Homo sapiens: one gene and its partners. The protein of the gene in region 2 interacts with the protein of the main gene of each other region in a pairwise test. Each region holds a gene or a part of one and is shown on either strand. Other genes may lie near its edges.

Evidence for each region. Proteins that work in one complex are often made in the same cells at the same time.
Region 1: the proteins of PIAS2 (region 2) and HMG20A interact in binary tests that used the Homo sapiens proteins (3 or more experiments, as listed by UniProt).
Region 3: the proteins of PIAS2 (region 2) and HMG20B interact in binary tests that used the Homo sapiens proteins (3 or more experiments, as listed by UniProt).
Region 4: the proteins of PIAS2 (region 2) and CBS interact in binary tests that used the Homo sapiens proteins (3 or more experiments, as listed by UniProt).

The regions. Positions count from the first base shown.
Region 1 is NC_000015.10:77,422,942-77,427,399, forward strand, and holds part of HMG20A (high mobility group protein 20A), read left to right. Parts: intron 1-4,458. UniProt on the Homo sapiens protein: Plays a role in neuronal differentiation as chromatin-associated protein. Acts as inhibitor of HMG20B. Overcomes the repressive effects of the neuronal silencer REST and induces the activation of neuronal-specific genes.
Region 2 is NC_000018.10:46,888,996-46,894,233, reverse strand, and holds part of PIAS2 (E3 SUMO-protein ligase PIAS2), read left to right. Parts: intron 1-702; exon of another isoform or gene 703-803; intron 804-3,179; coding exon 3,180-3,654; intron 3,655-5,238. UniProt on the Homo sapiens protein: Functions as an E3-type small ubiquitin-like modifier (SUMO) ligase, stabilizing the interaction between UBE2I and the substrate, and as a SUMO-tethering factor.
Region 3 is NC_000019.10:3,570,668-3,575,755, forward strand, and holds the start of HMG20B (SWI/SNF-related matrix-associated actin-dependent regulator of chromatin subfamily E member 1-related), read left to right. Parts: upstream 1-2,276; 5' UTR 2,277-2,327; exon of another isoform or gene 2,328-2,624; 5' UTR 2,625-2,642; coding exon 2,643-2,680; exon of another isoform or gene 2,681-3,024; coding exon 3,025-3,133; exon of another isoform or gene 3,134-3,150; intron 3,151-3,715; coding exon 3,716-3,919; intron 3,920-4,872; coding exon 4,873-4,993; intron 4,994-5,088. UniProt on the Homo sapiens protein: Required for correct progression through G2 phase of the cell cycle and entry into mitosis. Required for RCOR1/CoREST mediated repression of neuronal specific gene promoters.
Region 4 is NC_000021.9:43,069,324-43,073,781, reverse strand, and holds part of CBS (cystathionine beta-synthase), read left to right. Parts: intron 1-440; 5' UTR 441-516; intron 517-1,580; 5' UTR 1,581-1,588; coding exon 1,589-1,797; intron 1,798-4,458. UniProt on the Homo sapiens protein: Hydro-lyase catalyzing the first step of the transsulfuration pathway, where the hydroxyl group of L-serine is displaced by L-homocysteine in a beta-replacement reaction to form L-cystathionine, the precursor of L-cysteine.

The sequences.
Region 1 (4,458 bases), on a different chromosome or scaffold from region 2:
TATGGTCACCCTGACAAATGAAACTGTAGTGTTAGGAATTATTGAAGTATGGAAAGATTGTAGAACTAAATGAAAAAAATAGAGAATATCATGTTAAAATACTGATTGAGATAGAGTAATATTGCCTTTTGGAAACTGTCTTTATTAAATTGGTCTTTATGGTACTCCATGGAAGAAATACAGTATAATAGAAATAAGAAAAATTGTTGCAGCTGAAAGACTTGAGCAGCTTGAAGAACTATCTGTTTAGAAGAAAGCAATATATAAAATACCTATCTGAAAGAAGGTATTTTGTGATAAGTGGCAGTTATTCATTGGTTCCATCAAAGAAGAAATATTAGAAAAGCTTGTGAAAAATAGAGAGAGAAGGTCCATAGAACCTGTTTTTATTCTTTTTAAAAATGTTTCTTTAGAGAGGCTTGCTGTCCTCCAAAGGTTTTTTTTTCTTAATGCCCTTTGTGCAGTTTTCTTTGCATGTTTAATAGAAATATAGTATCAAAATTTAAAGAATTAATATTTTTGTACATGTACTGTTACTTCAAGTTAATGAATTTGAGATTTCATTCCATTACTTGCCATATATGTAACAAAGAAAGTGTCAAATCTTTTTTTCAAATACTTGGATTAGATAACCATTTTCTTTTCCAAAGACAGTCATTGGATACACTGCTCACAGCAGTTTGAAATATTAAAACCGTAGGTCACAATTCTGGATTCCATCTGACTGAAATTAGATTATCCACAGAGATGTTATACATAATACAGAAGTGTCTTTTCATTCTTTCATCTACTTTACTTTGTAAAATCAGGCTAATGTTTTGCAACTGTTGCTTTCCTTGTTTGTCGTTTTGGTGGTGGTTTGTTTTTGTTGTTGTTTTTGCCGTAGGGTTGAGGATTAAAGAAAGTATCTTAAGAACCTGAATGGTTTTTCACCTTACTGCTTTGCTGTCTCTATTTCATAGCCTTCACAGGTATTCAAATGAGAATACCCTTTACGTGACTTTTCATTATTTAAGCAAAAGTTTAGAGTGTCTACTATATGCCAGTCACTGTTCTCAGGACTTTGAATACAGTAAATACGGCCAAATATTCATATTCTACTGTAGTTTACTCTCTAATTTACAAATTAAAACTAGAATTTTGCTCCCTTGGTATTCCTAAATAAGATCTATGTTATGATCGTTGTTCAGACTGGGTAAAGAAGCAGCCCTAAACTTGATCTCTCCTGGTCTTAATCTCTAAGCCATTCTAAACCCAGATTTGAATGTTTCAGCCTAATTTTTCTCCAGACCATAGAAGCCCCTGTGTTAAATATGCAGTCCCTTTCATTGATACATGTATCATTTTCCTACCATTCTAGCTTCTTTTGTATTGTGAAAACAAATGAGAGTGAACAGTGGGGAAAATATGGGATCAGATAGGCCCAAATTCAGCACTGGTCTCTGCATTTTACTGGCTGAGCTTACTAGCTTGGTAACCATGAGCAATTTATTTGACCTCCCTAAGCCTCAGTTTTCCTAAATCCAAATGGGGTTGTTTGGTGGAATCAGAATGTTGTATGTAAATCTCCTGGTCCAATGCCTGGTGCCAGAAGCTTCATTAATGCAATTATCTTACCCCCAATCTTGCTTCTGCTACTCTGGCTATTGTGATTTGCCCACATGTCTGTTTTAAGCTTTACATTTTCCCCACAGTATGGGATGCAGTGGTAGACTGACTGAGCTTCAGCCTTGTCCCCCTATCAGCATGCTCACACAGTTGTCAAGATTTAATTTTTTTTCCTTGTGGGAAGGAGAAATCACTAATTTCCATGATTAGAAGATATACAAAATAGAAAAGTTTCAAGAAAAGGAATCTTAATCTTGGCACAAATCACTAAGGTAATTTGAATTGTTACAGGCAGACTTTCAACTCATTCTCCTAAACTTATTTAAATACGAAAACCAAAAATGACCTTTCACACTATGATCATACCTCACATTATTCATCTACACATCCAAACGGGATCGCCTCTGGGGGGAAAAAAATCTGTACTGCACCCAGCATTAATATTTTTTTTTGCTCATGCTATTTTCTGCCTGAAACACTCTTTTTTCCTAGGAATCCCCATCTATCAAAATGCCACTTTCTTTGAGGTCGTTTCTCAAGTACCACATTTAAGAAATATTTTCTGATATCCATCCTCTTCTACACTCTCCCAAACTGTACACGTTCTGTCCATTAACTCTCCAGAGCATTATACCTTTCTTACAGCACTTACTGTCCAGTGCTCCTCTTGTTTGTTTTTATTGCGTTGTTGTAGGTAGAGTTTATGCCTTCCCTAAAAGGCTGCAGACTAGGTCTTATTCCACTCTGTGCTGTCATACCTGGCACAAGACCATTCACATCATAGGTATTCAGTAAATATTTGTGGACGTGAGCTGGCTCTTGGAGTATGACAAAACTGATCAATAACTTTTGTCCACAATTATGCCCAGCATCAGCACAATGGCTATCATACATTAGACACTCAAATATCTATAAAATGAAAGAGTGAATAGTAAGTCATCATTCTCTCATTTGGGAGCTTCTTAGGGTGTCAGATAAGCATATATTAAGCACCTCCTATATAACTGGAGCTGTAAGAACTGATCTCTGCTCCTCAATTTAATTGGAAAAAAGTAAATTGTTACTAATATCTGCAGACTTTGAAGATGGTAGGTGTTTGAGTAGGGATGGCATGGAGAGCTTAATATAGAATTGTTTGCATTGTGAGAGATACCCTCTGCTACCTGAACTCAGAAACCAAATAGATTTTTATATCAAATATTTGGACACTTAACTTGTATTTCCACTCCTAGGTATATATCCAAGAGAACTTAAAACATGTTCACACAAAAACTTGCACACAAATATTTGTAGCAGCCTTATTTGTAAAAGGCAAACTCAAATGTCCATTAATTATTGGATGACTAAACAAAATGCGATATAGCCATACAATGGAATATTATTCAGCAACAAAGAGAAACAAAGTAGCAATACCTGCTGTAACATGGATAAAACTTGAAAATATTAAAGTGAAAGAAGTCACATACAAAAGGCAACCTATTATGTGATTCCATTTATTTAAGATGTCTAGATTAGGCAAAACTAATAGAGACAGAAAGTACATTAGTGGATGGGAATGGGAGTGACTGCTAGTATGGAGTTTCCTTTGGAAGTGATGAAAATGTGCCAGAATTAGATAGTGGTGGTGGTTGCATAACCTTATATACTAAAATATCTTGTATACTAATATACAGTTGACACCTGAACAATGAGGGGGTTCGGGGTGCTAACCCCTGTGTTGTCAAAAATCCATGTATAACTTCTGACTCCCCAAAAAGTTAACTACGTAAATAGCTTACTGCTGACTGGAAGCCTTACCAATAGCATAAATAGTTGATTAACACATGTTTTATATGTTACATGTACTATGTACTGTATTCTTACAATAAGCTAGAGAAAGAAAATGTTACTAAGAAAATGATAAGGAAGAAAAAATATGTTTACTATTTATTATTCGTTAAGTGGAAGTGGATTATCATAAAGGTATTCATCCTTGTCATCTTCACATTGAGTAGGCTGAGAAGGAGGAAGAGGAAAGGTTGGTCTTACTGTCTCAAGTGGTGGAGGCAGAAGAAAATCAGCATATAAGTAGACTCATGCAGTTCAACCCATGTTGTTCAAGGGTCAACTGTACAAAAAAAATCCTGAAATATACACTAAAGGGGTCAGTTTTATGGTATGTGAATTATATCTAAAAGAGAGAGATACTTAGACTTGAAGAATAGAGAATTTTGAATGGAGCCAGAAGAAAGAAGCAAGAGGTGTGAAAGCAAGGAAATGATCATTCTTTCTCAGATCCTAGAGAGAAATATAAGCAGCTAGGTACAGGGCTAAAGGTATGTTAAGGATCAGGTGAGGATGGATATGAGGATAGCTTCTGGGTTTTTGTCTTAATGTAGCAGGGATTTTGGTAAATACTTAGACTACAGAGGTATTAACAAAGGAGAAAAACATCTTATGACCTTGAAGGAAGCTTCAGATTTCTTCTTGATTAGGTCAAGGATGTGGTATATGGTCTTTTTGGTTTCTGTGTTACGGTCAGCTGAGTTTAAAGAGTGGGAGTATTCTAAGGTAAGGAGTCTAGTAGCAATCAAAACAAAGTTACTGGGGAAGATGGGAGAATAGAGACTAGACAAAGATGTTAGAATTTGATTCTAAAGCTCTCCTCAGGTAATAAAAATAGATAAATCTTAATGAGAAGGAACCAAGGGCAGTGATTTGGAGAAGTCAGTACAAATAAAGGTATTCATTTGAAGAAATATTTGAGTGCCTTTTATGTGCCAGGCACTATTAAATAAAACTATAGCTATTTTCCTTATTTGACTTTTTTTCTGAAGATAAAATCTTATGAGTGTGATTAATGGTTCTACA
Region 2 (5,238 bases):
AGATTTGCCAAACAACATATTTGTAGAATTTTACTTAGTAAGCTGCTTTGAGATTATTTTATCAGTAAGTGCTAAATAAAGGAAAGGGATTTTTGATTTTTGCTTTTTGAGATGGGGTCTCACTCTGTCGCCCAGGTTGGAGTGCAGTGGCTCAGTCTTGGCTCACTGCAACTTCCACCTCCTGGGTTGAAGAAATTCTCCTGCCTCAGCCTCCCGAGTAGCAGGGACTACAGGTGTGTACCACCAAGCCTGGCTAATTTTTGTAATTTTAGTAGAGACGGGGTTTCACCATGTTGGTCAGGCTGGTCTTGAACTCCTGACCTCAAATGATCCACCCGCCTTGCCTCCCAGAGTGCTGAGATTATAAGCGTGAGCCACTGTGCCTGGCCAAGGAGAGGGATTTTTTTGGGGGGTGTTTGTTATTTTAAAATAGAAATTGATGACCAGAGGGATGAAATGACTTTCCCAGGGTCCAAAGTCTTGGTGCTTGGGCTTGAACCACAACTGCTGATTGCTGGCTTGAAGTTTTTCACAGGGCCCTGTTGACTTAATTACCTTTGGCTATGTGTCCAGCAATACTTTATCTTTGCAGCATTTTGTAATGCAAAGACTGTCCCATCTGCTGTTCAGAATTCTGTGATTCCGCATTCATAGTCTAAGCTCTTATCTCTTTCTTACTTTTTGTTTGTCTATTTACAACAGCCCATAGAGCCAGTTGCATTAACATCCTTTGCCAAATAATGTTATCACTGGAAATATGAGATATGAGACCTCCTAGAAATTCCTCTGAGAGTCAAGCTTAGGTAGGATGACTTTGTGCTTTGTTTTGTCATTTCTGTAAAATAGCTTCCCTTAAAATGAAGAATATCTGACAATAAGTATAAGGAGTGAAGCAAAGTAGTGAATTCTGAGTTAGAAAAAATCAGTTATGTTTTATCTGTGTGATTGCCTTTTTTAGTATTAGTGTTCCACAATCAATTGAAGTATTTACTAAGATTGAGGGAAAGATGCATCGTATTACTTGCTTGGGTAAACCCTTCCCAAGAAGCTGTTGTCTTCTGTTTAATGCATGAGATGTTGAGTAAGCTGTGACTGGTTTGTTATGAGATAGGCCAAAAGTTTTCTTGTTTTCCTTCTTTGTTGTCTGCACTGTAGAGGTAACACACATTGTGGTATGTGTTCTATTAGAGTATGATTTAGAGCTACCACAGTGTGGTAGCTAGTGGCCACATGTGGCTCTTAAGCACTTGAAATGTGGTTAGTCCAAATTTAGATGTATTGTAAGTGTAAAATATACACCAGATATTGAAGACTTAGTATAAAAAAAATCCCACTGACACTTTAAAAAATGATTATTTTTAAATTACAAAAATTGATTGCATGTTGAGATGAAAAGATAGTTTTGATATATTGGGTTAAATAACTATGTTAATGTAAATTATCATTATTATTATTATTATTTTTGAGACAGTCTTAATATTGCCTAGGCTGGAATATGGTGGTGTGATCACAGTTCACTGTAGCCTCAAATTCCTGGGCTCAAGTGATCCTCTCGCCTCAGTCTCCTGAGTGGCTTGGACCACAGGCACACACACCACCATGGCTGGCTAATTTTTAAATTTTTGTGGAGACGGGGTGTTAGTATGTTGTCCAGTGTGGTCTCGAACTCCTGGGCTCAAGTGATCCTCTTGTGTTGGCCTCCAAAAGCACTGGGATTATAGGTGTGAGCCACTGTTCCTGGCCTAAATTAGTTTTTTTAATGTGACTACTAGGAGGTTTAATGTGTGTCTTCTATTAATTTGTGTTGGACAGCACTGAATTAGAGTATAAAATGGCTTGCCAGGATTACAATTTAATATTCTCTCACTTGTACATTATGAAATATAGAGACATATATAGTACACAAAGTACAGTTATGACAGTGTATATGGATTACTTTGGCATATTTAAATCTGTTTGCATTTTAGTAAACTAGCAAGTATTTATACCAACAAGTATTTAAAAACCATATAGGGTTTTAAACAGTTGCTTCTGGGCCGTCCCTGAGACTTAAAAAGTACAGAGCAACTGCCCCACATTTCCACTATACTGATGAGACAAGCAGGTTGAAAAGGAATCCCAAGTGACTGTGGAGTGTGTAGCACGGGCTGGGTTGGGGGAGTGATGAGGATGGGATGGGACACCAAACCACAGGTAGTTCTCCTGGGTAGGTTTCTGACAGGGCTTTGGTCAGCTCCAGGTGTTCTTCCTCTTTCTTGCTAGATGATGCATGTGTGGTATCTGACCCAAGTGTGATTTGCCTCTGAGTTCAGAATTGACTGGAAATCACTAAGTAGGTGGATTCCTGAGGCTGCAAGGGGTTAAAAATATTCATTAAGTTTTGCTGAAAAAATAGAAGGTGTGATGTGAAGCTGCAACTGCTTATAACCTTTGTTTTACGCCCAAGCACAAGCCAGTAGAGTAGTGTGGAGGAAATGTTGCCCTTTAAGATTGATGACTGCTCATTTCCTTGCTCTTCAAAGGTCTTTTTCTCATTTGGATACCCAGCTGGGAATTTCAGTTGTTTTAGAAGTTTGACTGCTAAATAAGATGTATGTGATTTTTTAGCTTTAATATTTTAAAATATCTTTATTATGTTGTTTGTTTGTTAATGTTTGAATTGGGGTAAAAAATTCATTGCATTTTGGATCACAGTTCTGACTTGATTTTTATGGATTTACTACTCAGCATCAAAAGTTACACATCTAACATTGTGAAAATCTGATTTTTTGTTTGGTTAATTGGCGATAATTCTGTAACAAACATTACATTGTATATTGGGAGGGGTTGGTTTTGAAAAGGAGTATATTCATTGGTGATAGATTTTATAGTCATAAAGCAAATAACTGTTTGCATTAGAGCATAATCAGATAATGAAGTGGTTAGTAGAAACCAATAGACTATAGATTACCAAAATTAAGATCTTGTACAACAAAATATAATTAACACCGTAACTTGAATGTAATTTTTACGGGATTGTCTTATGAATGGTAATGATTCTAAGTGGTATGTGAAATGCTGTTACTAGCACATGCCAATTGATAGAATGCTGGAAAAATCACATTTTACATTATATTTTAGATAGGATTTTTGTATGCTTGAGGGTGACTTGGCTTATGTTTTTTTTTCTTTCCTTTTAGAATATGGTTTCTAGTTTTAGGGTTTCTGAACTACAAGTATTACTAGGCTTTGCTGGACGGAATAAAAGTGGACGCAAGCATGACCTCCTGATGAGGGCGCTGCATTTATTGAAGAGCGGCTGCAGCCCTGCGGTTCAGATTAAAATCCGAGAATTGTATAGACGCCGATATCCACGAACTCTTGAAGGACTTTCTGATTTATCCACAATCAAATCATCGGTTTTCAGTTTGGATGGTGGCTCATCACCTGTAGAACCTGACTTGGCCGTGGCTGGAATCCACTCGTTGCCTTCCACTTCAGTTACACCTCACTCACCATCCTCTCCTGTTGGTTCTGTGCTGCTTCAAGATACTAAGCCCACATTTGAGATGCAGCAGCCATCTCCCCCAATTCCTCCTGTCCATCCTGATGTGCAGTTAAAAAATCTGCCCTTTTATGATGTCCTTGATGTTCTCATCAAGCCCACGAGTTTAGGTAAGTGTTTGAGAATTCAGTTTCTTCTGAACAAGATAGTAAATGAAATGAGAGACCTTCAACTATTGATTAATGATGTGCTGTTAATATAGTGAAATTGAGGCATCAATGCCGAATGTTTGAATATACGGATAAAAATTCGGCAACCATGACTGAAATCTAATAGAAGCTTTATTTCATATCATTTGATCTTTCTTCTTCTCCAATTCTTTTATTGTAAAATACACATAATATAAAATGTATCATCTTGATCATTTTAAAGTGTACAGTTGAGTGGTGTTAAGTATGTTGGTAATGTTGTGCAGCCATCACTGCCATCCATCTCCAGAACTCTTTTCATCTTCTGAAGCTGAAACTCTGTACCCATTAAACAATAGCCTTCCTCTCCTCCTCTCCCACTAGCCCCTGGCAGTTACCATTCTACTTCCACTGTCTATGATTTTGACTATTCCAAGTACCTCATGTCGTTGGAATCATACAGTATTTGTCTTGTGACTGGCTTATTTCACTAAATGTAATGTCCTCAAGGTTCTAGCATGCTGTAGTTTATGTTAGAATTTCTTTCCTTTTAAAGGCTAAATAATACAATAGTATACATTTTTAAAGAAAAATAGTAATCTTTTGCTCACTCCACTACTCATCCCTCAATCTCACTTTCAAGAGGCAACAACCTTAATTATTTTAGCTGTTTCTTCTGGTTTTACTTCTATATTTCTGTGTTATAGGATACCACATTTTGCTTATCCATTGGACACTTGGGTTGCTCCCACATTTTAGCTATTGCGAATAATTCTGTGGACACGGGTATACACGTATCTCTTTGAGACCCTGCTTTTCAATTCTTCTGGCTGTATACCCACAAGTGGAATTGCTGGATCACATAGTCATTCTGTTTTTAGTATTTTGAGGCATCACCATACTGTTTTCCGTGGCAGCTGCATTTTACATTCCCTTCAACAGTGCACAAGGGTTCCAGTTTCTCCACATCCTTAACAACACTTTTATTTTCCTTTTTTTTTTATAGTGGCCATTATAATGGGTGTCAGGTGGTATCTTATTGTAGCTTTGATTTGCATGTCTGTAATGATGGTGATATTGTGCATTTTCATGTGCTTTTTGGCCATTTATGTATCTTTCAAGAAATGTATAGCCAAGTCTCTTGCCCATTTTTGAATTGGTTTGTTTTATTGTTGTTGAGTTTTAGGAGTTCTCTGTATATTCTGGATATAATCCCTTATCAGATATATGAATGTGCAAATATTTTCTCCCACTCTGTGGTTTGCCTTTTTTACTCTGTTGATAGTGTCTTTTGATGTACAACTTAACATTTTTTCATGAAATTCCAATTTGTTTATTTTTTGTTGTTGTTGCCTATGCCTTTGGTGTCATATCCAAGAAATCATTGCTAAACTTCATGCTGTGAAGGTTTTGCCCTGTGTTTTCCTTTAAGAATTTTATAGTTTTAGGTCTTACATTTAAGCCTGATCTCTTTTGAGTTAATTTTCGTATATGGTATTAGGTGAGTGTCCAGCTTTGTTCTTTTGTTTGTGGATATCCAGTTTTTCCCCACCATTTGTTGAAAAG
Region 3 (5,088 bases), on a different chromosome or scaffold from region 2:
AGAGCCAGGTCTGGCGTGTGGAACCGTCCAGATTCCAGGGCCAGCTCCTCTTCCTCAGCCCCGGGCTGCATCTTAGGACAATGGGCTTATTGAGACTTAACTCACATATAATGCACCCATTTAGAGCATACAATTCCATGGTTTGTAATATATTTCCAGAGTCACGCAGCCATCACTGAAATCAAATTGTAAAATACTTTCATCACCCAAATGAAAACCGCATCCCTCTCAGTGGTCATTCCCCACCCACTGGCACCCACACGTCCCCCTCCTGTCTCTGTGGATGGGCCTTTCCTGAACATTCTGATCACACACTGTGTGACCTTTGTGTCTGGCGTCTCTCACTGAGTGTGATGTCTTCTAGGTACATCCATGCTGTGACTTGTGTCAGAGACTCGCTCCTTTTTTTTATGGCTGATAATATTCTTTTTTTTTTTTTTTGAGACGTAGTCTTGCTCTGTTGCCCAGGCTGGAGTGCAGTGGCACAATCTTGGCTCACTGCAACCTCTGCCTCCCAGTTCATGGGATCCTCCTGCCTCAGCCTCCCATGTAGCTGGGATTACAGGCGTGCACCACCACGCCTGGCTAGTTTTTGTATTTTTAATAGAACTGGAGTTTCACCATGTTGGCCAGGCTGGTCTCGAACTCCTGACCTCAAGTGATCCGCCTGCCTCCCAAAGTGCTGGGATTACAGGCGTGAGCCACTGCGCCCGGCCCATGGCGGATAATATTCTGTTGTAAGGATATATCCCGTCATCGATCCATGCATCATTAGCAGACGTTTGAGTTGTTTTCACTTTTTGGCTATTATGAATCACGCTGCTACCGACGCTTGTGTACACGCTTTTGTTTGAACACCTGTTTTCAGTTGTCTGGAGTATATTCCTAGGAGTGAACTGCTGAATTGCATGGTGATTCCACATTTATTTAACCCTTTGAGGAAATGCCAGTCTGTTTTCCAAAGCAGCTGCATCTGCCTCCTAGACATCTGAAGGATTCAATGAATGTGTATTGAGCATCCACCATGGGCAATGCTGTGAACCAAACAGGCAGGCCACAGGGAGAAGCCGACTTATGGAGGCAAAAAAAAAATCAGAGAAGGCCTGGCTGAGCAAGTGACATTTAAGCGGACTTGAGGAAGAGGAAGTGGGCCGGGCGTGGGGGCTCACGTCTGTAATCCCACCACTTTGGGAGGCCGAGGCGGGTGGATCACGAGGTCAGGAGTTCAAGACCAGCCTGGCCAAGATGGTGAAACCCTGTCTCTACTAAAAATACAAAAATTAGCCGGGCGTGGTGGCAGGCGCGTGTAATCCCAGCTACTCGGGAGGGTGAGGCAGAGAATTGCTTGAACCCGGGAGGCAGAGGTTGCAGTGAGCCGAGATCCAGCCACTGCACTCCACCCTGGACGACAGGGTGAGACTCCGTCTCAAAAACAAAAGAGGAGGTGAGCAGCCCCAACTTGGGCCAGAAGCCTAGACTGCTGCTGGGAGGTCCCTGATCCACCAGAGCGGAGCCTCCTGACCCATCCTCACGAAGTCCTTGCCATCTCCCTTCACCACCATCTTTCCCCAAACACTTCCAGCCCAGCTCCCAACCCCACCCCCTGCCTGACCCACACCCAGTTCTCAGCTTCCCAGCATCCCAGTCTCTCTGTCCTGGATATCGTGTGATGTCCCCGTTGCACAGGGGGGAAAGCCGAGACCCCAGAGGGAGAGCAGCCCCTATGGCCAGAAGCCCTCGGATCCGGACGTCGGGGGCTCTAAACTGAGTAAATACATAGGAAACTTCTCCGCTAGGTTTTGCAGGATGTTAAGAACAGGTCCCACCTTGCCTAGGGCTGGGGACTGCCTCGCAGGACCTTAACCCTAGCAACCCACCTCCGTCCCCATGGCAACCGGGGCGGGGCCCGACCCGGATCCGCCGGTCGCCCCATCCGGCAGCGGCTGGGAGTCTTGCCTTCAGAGAGGGAGGAGGAGTCCGCGCCTCTCCTACTGGCCCTTTAAGAGGCTCCGCCCGGCAAGTCCGCCACTCGCTCCCGATTGGTCCCGAGCGCGGCCGAGCGCAGCCGAACTTGACGCACCGCCCGCAGCCTTCCTTACCAACCTCCCACGCGACTCAGCAACCTCCCCAACCAATCGCCGGCCGGCGCGCCGATCGGTATCTGCATGGGCTCGCCCGGGGGGAAGGTCTCACCCAATGGGACCGTTCGCCGAGGCCTTCATTAGCATGCCGGGGGCGGGGAGGGGCGGGGCGGCCGACGGGGGCGGGCTGCGGGCGGTTGGTTGGAGCGTCGCGCAGTCGGGAGGTCCGGGAAAGTTTCTTTGGAGGTGAAAACAGCCGCGGAACTCCGGGCCCTGAGAGGGGGCGGGGGTGCAGGGGTCCCAGGGCCGGGCCGGGGTCTTTCCTGGCCCGGGGGAAACCGGCCCAGGCCTCCCGGGGGGGGCAATCGCCCAACAAAGGATTCTTGGGGCGCCCGCCCTCGAGGACTTCCCTGCCCCTGGATCCGGCCCCCCCAGCGCTCCGGGCCCGGCATCCCGGGGCTCTCCATCGCGGGGTACCCCAGTTCGCGGTCTGCCATCGGGCAGCCCGGGCGCTACTCACCTCCGCCCGCGTCCGTGTTCCAGGTCCGGCCCGGAGCGGCCATGTCCCACGGCCCCAAGCAGCCCGGCGCGGCCGCCGCGTGAGTGCACTGATCCCCTCCCCACGCCCTCGCTACTTTCCCGGCTGCAGCCCTAGCTCCTGAACCCCTGACCCAGTCCCTCCCGCCGGAGTCTTGACTCCCCCACCTGGGTCAGGGGGCTTCTCCCTCCACCCAATTCTGCACCCCCCACCTCGGCCTCCAGTCCCTCCCAGGAGCCCCGCTTGTCCCACCTTCCCCGGATACTGACCCCATCAGACCCTGCCTCCTCGGGCTCATGCACTCTCGCTGCAGCCCCGCCGTCGGGGGTCAAAACGCCCTGGGGTGGGCTTTTGGGGGAGGGGAGATTCTTGGGACGGGGCTGACCGCGGTATCCTTGGCTCCAGGCCGGCGGGCGGCAAGGCTCCGGGCCAGCATGGGGGCTTCGTGGTGACTGTCAAGCAAGAGCGCGGCGAGGGTCCACGCGCGGGCGAGAAGGGGTCCCACGAGGAGGAGGTGAGAGTCCCTGCGCTGAGCTGGGGGAGGCCCCGGGCTCCCGCCCCAGCCTCGAAGCCCCGCCCCAGGCTGGATTTGAATTGCTTGTGGCTCCGCCCACAGCCCATTTTCCTCTGGAAGCTGAGACCCCGCCCCGTGCCAGCTGCCACGCCCCTGACAGGTCCTCTGCCACTCTAAGTCCAGGCCCCGCCCACCGCACAATGCCAGCTCTGCCCACTCTAAGGTCCCGCCCACTTCCACTCCTTGGGGGCGGCACCCTCCCCTTGGTCCTGTGGGCCCGTTCTCCAGCAGAAAACCACGCCCACCAAGCAGAGGCCACGCCCACAACCGAAGTCAACGCCAACCCTGTACTCAAACCTCGGCCCATAGTTCCTCAGATCCCCTCACCCCTGGCCAGGGATCCCTCTAACCCACCGTGTCCCGACTGCTGACCGGGCCCTACCTCCATCTTTTCCGGGTTCTTCCTCCCAGCTAGGCCCCGCCCCCATCCCCGCCCATACGCGTTAGGCCCCGCCCATGCCCCTCTGAGCCCTGCCCCAGTACGCCAGGCCCCCCTCCCAACGACGCAGCCCGGTTCTGCAGCCGGTGAAGAAACGCGGCTGGCCCAAGGGCAAGAAGCGGAAGAAGATTCTGCCGAATGGGCCCAAGGCACCGGTCACGGGCTACGTGCGCTTCCTGAACGAGCGGCGCGAGCAGATCCGCACGCGCCACCCGGATCTGCCCTTTCCCGAGATCACCAAGATGCTGGGCGCCGAGTGGAGCAAGCTGCAGCCAACGGAAAAGCAGGTGGGCGGGGCGGGGCGCCGAGCAGGGCTGGCGGGGTCCACGGACTACCCCCCAGTAGCCCCGACCCCCAAAGGATTCCACGTGCAGGGTTTTTCCTTCTTCCTGGAGAAATGCCCACCCATAACCAACTTTTTTTTTTTTTTTTTTTGTGAGATGGAGTCTTGCTCTGTTGCCCAGGCTGGAGTGCAGTGGCGTGATCTCAGCTCACTGCAACCTCCGCCTCCCGGCTTCAAGCAATTCTCCTGTCTCAGCCTCTCAGGTAGCTGGGATTACAGGCGCGTGCTACCATGCCCTGCTAATTTTTGTATTTTTAGTAGAAATGGGGTTTCGCCATGTTGGCCAGGCTGGTCTCGAACTCTTGACCTCAAATGATCCGCCCACCTCAGCCTCCCAAAGTATTGATATTAAAGGCGTTAGCCACCGTGGCCAGCCCATGACCAGCTTTTGGGGGCGCGGCTAGCAAGAGGCAAGACAGATTGAAAACTGGATGACCAACAAAGATATGTCTAAGAAGTCAGGATGGGGCCTGGATTTTTTGCGAAACCCGATTTTCATATCCTGTTAGTTTAAAAATTGCAAAAACATCACGGAAATGTAACAAAAGCCATCACTGCTTTGCATCCCTGTAAGTGAGATTTCAAAGAGAGAAACGGGTGCGGGAGGGAGTCCAGGCATCCGCATACGCTGGAGGTTGGGTTCCTGCCCATGACTCTGGCGTCCGGGAGTGGTTTGTCAGGGCTGGAGGTGGGGAAGAGTCCGGGGCATGGGAAGTGAGGTGGGAGCTCGGAGGTCCCTGAGCAACAGGCTGAGGAGCCGGTTCTGTCTGCCTGGAGGGAATAGGGAGCTATAGAAGGTTCAGGAGAGGGGAGGGTGCTGTGAAAGCAGAGTGATAAAGACTGGATCCTGGCGTTGGAGGCTTCCCCTGCTTCAAGCCTTCTGGTGCTGCCCCCCAGCGGTACCTGGATGAGGCCGAGAGAGAGAAGCAGCAGTACATGAAGGAGCTGCGGGCGTACCAGCAGTCTGAAGCCTATAAGATGTGCACGGAGAAGATCCAGGAGAAGAAGATCAAGAAAGGTGGGAGGGGTCGGGCGCGGTGGCTCACGCCTGTCATCCCAGCACTTTGGGAGGCCGAGGCGGGTGTATCACCTGAGGTCAGACCAGCCTGGCCA
Region 4 (4,458 bases), on a different chromosome or scaffold from region 2:
TACTTTATTTATTTTCTTTTATTTTTATTTTTATTTTTATTTTTTGAGACGGAGTCTCGCTCTGTTGCCAGGCTGGAGTGCAGTGGCGCGATCTCGGCTCACTGACCTCCCCCTCCCGGGTTCAAGCGATTCTCCTGCCTCAGCTTCCCGAGTAGCTGGGACTACAGGTGTGCGCCACCATGCTTGGCTAATTTTTGTAGTTTTAGTAGAAACGGGGTTTCACCATGTTGGCCAGGATGGTCTCGATCTCTTGACCTCATGATCCGCCCGCCTCGGCCTCCCAAAGTGCTGGGATTACAGGCGTGAGCCACCGCGCCCGGCCTATTTGTTACAATTAATGAGCCAATTCCACGATCACATAACCATTGTTGACATTAACCAAAGTCCGCGCTTGAGTCAGATTTGCAGAGTTTTCTCCTCACTGCCCTTTTCTATTCCAGGATCCCATGACAGATTCTGTTGTCACGTCTCCTTACAGAGTTTGAGCGGTGCTGAACTGTCAGCACCATCTGTCCGGTGAGTGACGGCTGTGGACTTAGTCTTCCTGTTGAATGTGGGGAATCAAAGGAGGGTGAAGCGGGGCTGAGCCCAGTCCTGGGCCCTCTGAAGAAGGCAAGGTGGGAGGTGGTCGTGGGTTCCTTGTCCCCCCAGAGGAGGGGCAGCAGATGGGACCTCGCCTGGCTTTCTTTTTGCTTTCTTCTTTTTTTTTTCTGTCTCATCTATTTCAGGTGCGTGTGTGTGTTTTTAATCCTGGGTAAAATACACGTAACACTGATCACTGTAACCATTTCTAAGTGTGAGGCAACCACCGTGACTATCTCCACCCAGAACGTTTTCATCATCCCCAGCACAACCTCTGCACCCATTAAACAATCACCCTCCCTTCCCCACTCACCTCAGCCGCTGGCCGCTTCTATTCTACTTTCTATCTCTATGAATTTGCCAGACATAGAGGGGCGTTCGAGAGTCCCAGGTGCCTCATCGTGGAAGTGGAATCACACAGTATTTGTCCTTTTGTGTCTGGCTCATTTCGCTTGGCATAATGTCCTGAAGGTTCGTCCGTGTTGTAGCGTGTGCCAGAATTCATTTCTCTTAGGGCTGAGTAATATTCTAGTGTGTGTATGAGCCTACTGTGTGTGTTCATCCGTCTGCGGATACGTGGGCTGCCTCCACGTTTTGACTTGTGAATAGTGCAGCAGTGAGCATGGGTGTGCAAGCATCTGTTTTGTTGTTGTTGTTTTATTTTTTAAATAGAGATGGGGCTGGAGCCCAGGCTGGTCTTGACCTCGTGGACTCAAGTGGTCCTCCTGCCTCAGCCTCCCGAAGTGCTGGGATGAGAGGCGTGAGCCACCGCACCCGGCCCAAGCAACTGTCTGCTTCCATTTTTTTTGGTATATGCCTATAGGAGAGAAATGGCCAAGCGGCTGCCCACAGGGCTGGTGCCTGTGTTTTTGTGCAGTTCTTCCTGGGCTTCTCTGAGGGAGCAGAGCACGCCTCCCAGAGGGGGCCGGGTCAGCAGGGTTCGCTGGAACCCCACAGCATCCGAGCCTGAACCGACGCCTCTCTCCTTGCTTTGCCAGGTCCCAGCATGCCTTCTGAGACCCCCCAGGCAGAAGTGGGGCCCACAGGCTGCCCCCACCGCTCAGGGCCACACTCGGCGAAGGGGAGCCTGGAGAAGGGGTCCCCAGAGGATAAGGAAGCCAAGGAGCCCCTGTGGATCCGGCCCGATGCTCCGAGCAGGTGCACCTGGCAGCTGGGCCGGCCTGCCTCCGAGTCCCCACATCACCACACTGCCCCGTAAGTCCTGCTTTTGATCACAAGAGGGCTGATCCATAACCTGGAGGGCAGGAGTTTGTTACCTGGACACCACACAGCCAGGAGGACATGAGGTGTAACCCCCTGTAGTCACTCTGGATTGAGGAGCTGGGGGTGGGGCCATGCCGTGTAGATGAGGCTCTGAGAGGCCAAGGCCTCCTTACGCTGCAGCCCAGCGCCTAGGCCAGTGCCTGGCAAGACAGTGGATGCTCAGCAAGTAGTTCCAGAATAAATAAATAAATGTGCCCAGGTCACATGCTTTGCCCGGTCTGTGGCTGCGTGTGCACATTCACTGGAGGTGAGGGACCAGGATCCTGCCTGCGCTCTCTTATTTATTTATTTTTTATTTTTTTGAGACACGAGCTGGAGTGCAGTGGTGCAATCATGGCTTACTGCAGCCTCAATCTCCCCCAGTTAAGGGATCCTCCCACCTCAGCCTCCCAAGTAGCTGGGACTATGGGTGCCCACCATCACACCCAGCTGATTTTTGTATTTTTAGGAGATGGGGTTTCACCCAGGCTGGTCTTGAATGCCTAGGTTCAAGTGATCCGCCTGCCTTGGCCTCCCACAAGTGTTGGGATTACAGGTGTGAGCCACCGCGCCCGGCCCAGCCTGCACTTTTCCGTTAACTCTAGGTCATGAAGACTTCCCGTAGGCATTACATATTTTTCCATAAGGGCTGTTTTTCTGGTGGCACAGACTGTTCGGTGAAGAAGCCATCATTTTGTAAGCCCTCTACGGGGTAGATAGATGTTTGCAGTTACCTCATTTTACATAACTGCAATAGAAGATACGACACATTCATTTAGCCAACAAGTCTTTCCTCAGCGCCATGTGCATTTCGTGCCCTGCTCAAGGCGCAGAAGATCTATCAGTGGAAAAGACAAATCAACAAAAATCCCTACCCCAGCATGAAACTGAAATCAAGCTCACTAAGCCTTAGGATTATCTTTATTTCCTTAGTGTAATCTTGGAGGAGAACAAATAGATCAAAGAATGTGCTTCTTAGATGTTTGATTCCTTTTTTTTTTTTTTTTTTTTTGAGACAGAGTCTCGCTGTCACCCAGGCTGGAGTGCAGTGGCGCGATCTCAGCTCACTGCAACTTCTGCCTCCCGGGAAGCGATTCTCCTACCTCAGCCTCCCTAGTAGCTGGGATTACAGGCATGTGCCAGCACGCCCGGTGGATTTTTATGCTTTTAATAGAGATGGGGTTTCACCATGTTGTCCAGGCTGGTCTTGAACTCCTGACCTCAGTTGATCCACTCGCCTCGGCCTCCCAAAGTGCTGGGATTATGATTCCTATTTTGTGTCCACCACTACCAGCGTTTATGGTTGTTGATTTACAGTTCAGAATGGGTGGGGGTGGCTGGGTGTACTCTCAGTGCAGCAATAGAAAGAAAGAAGTGACAGTGGACAAACCCAGAAGGTCTGAGTGTCAAACATACTCAGTGCTGGGAGCTCAGGAGGCCAAGCAGATGTGTGGGCAGCCAGGAGGATGGGCTCTTGCTGCCAAGACAAACCCAAGAGAGCAGTGGGTGAGAGGCCCGGTGAGGTCGGGAGTGGCTGCTGGAGGGTGGAGTGGGCAGGGAAGACAGGCCCGATTCCTGAGGGCTCCGTGAGCTCCTAACTCTAGGGCATGAGAAGGAGACGATGCCCTCCAGGTTGTAAATGGCGTTGCACCTGCACCTCACATACTGGCCTCATTCATCCTCCGAAGACACCCCCATCCTGAGACGCAGAGCCGACGCCGCTTGTCTCCAGTCGGAGGGCCCCTGAGAATAGTGGCGTTGCGGGGAGGTGCTGCAGAGGTGGGTCAGGAGTTGGAGGTTCATTCTAGGACAGTGGCGTGTCCTCCCAGGAGCCTCTTGGGCTGTGGAAGTGGGAGTCCTTGAGATAAGGGGCTCCAGGGCTATCCCTGCAAGTCACATCCTTTTTCTTGCTAAGCGCTCTGGGCCTGGCCCTGATCACCTCTGCAAACTTCTCAGGTAACTTCACAGCCACCGAGGCCCAGTGCTGAGTCAGCACACCTGCTGCAGGGAGGCGGGACTCTTCCCGCCTGGCTGGCCAGATGCCCGAACTGAATTAATGAACTAATCCCCGGCGCTGTCACCCTGGGGCTTGGCTTTCCACCTGGCCCTGGCTCTCTACACCTGCCAAGCCTGGTTCCCTTCTGCCGAGAACTGCTTCTGAGGGAACCTCCCTGGCCCCTGTACAGTTTGGGGACCTGGCAGGACTGCCTTCTGCTCCCCGGGAAGGGTGCGATTGGATTCCAGCTGCTCTTGTTGGCGCCTGTTTTGGCCTTCAGGGTAGCTCTCCCTGCAAATGTGGCACTCCCTCCATGGCACAGGACCTCTGGGAGCTGGGTTCACCCCAGGTCTAAGGGTCGCCTCCTGGGGGGCAGGACCCAAGGACCCTGGCTGTTCAGCAGGTGACTGTGCTGAAGAGGGGGCCCAGGGTTAGCCACGGGGTGTCATCGGAGCTGCAAGGCCCAGGGAGGGGTTGCGGGTCTGGAGACCGCTGTAAGCCATGCGTGTTCCCAGATGAGTATGTGGTGAGCTTGGTGCAGATAGATAGGGGGTGTCATCAGCATCTCCCTGGGGGAGGATGGCAGGGGCATGAGGGCCATTTAGGAAACCACCTGG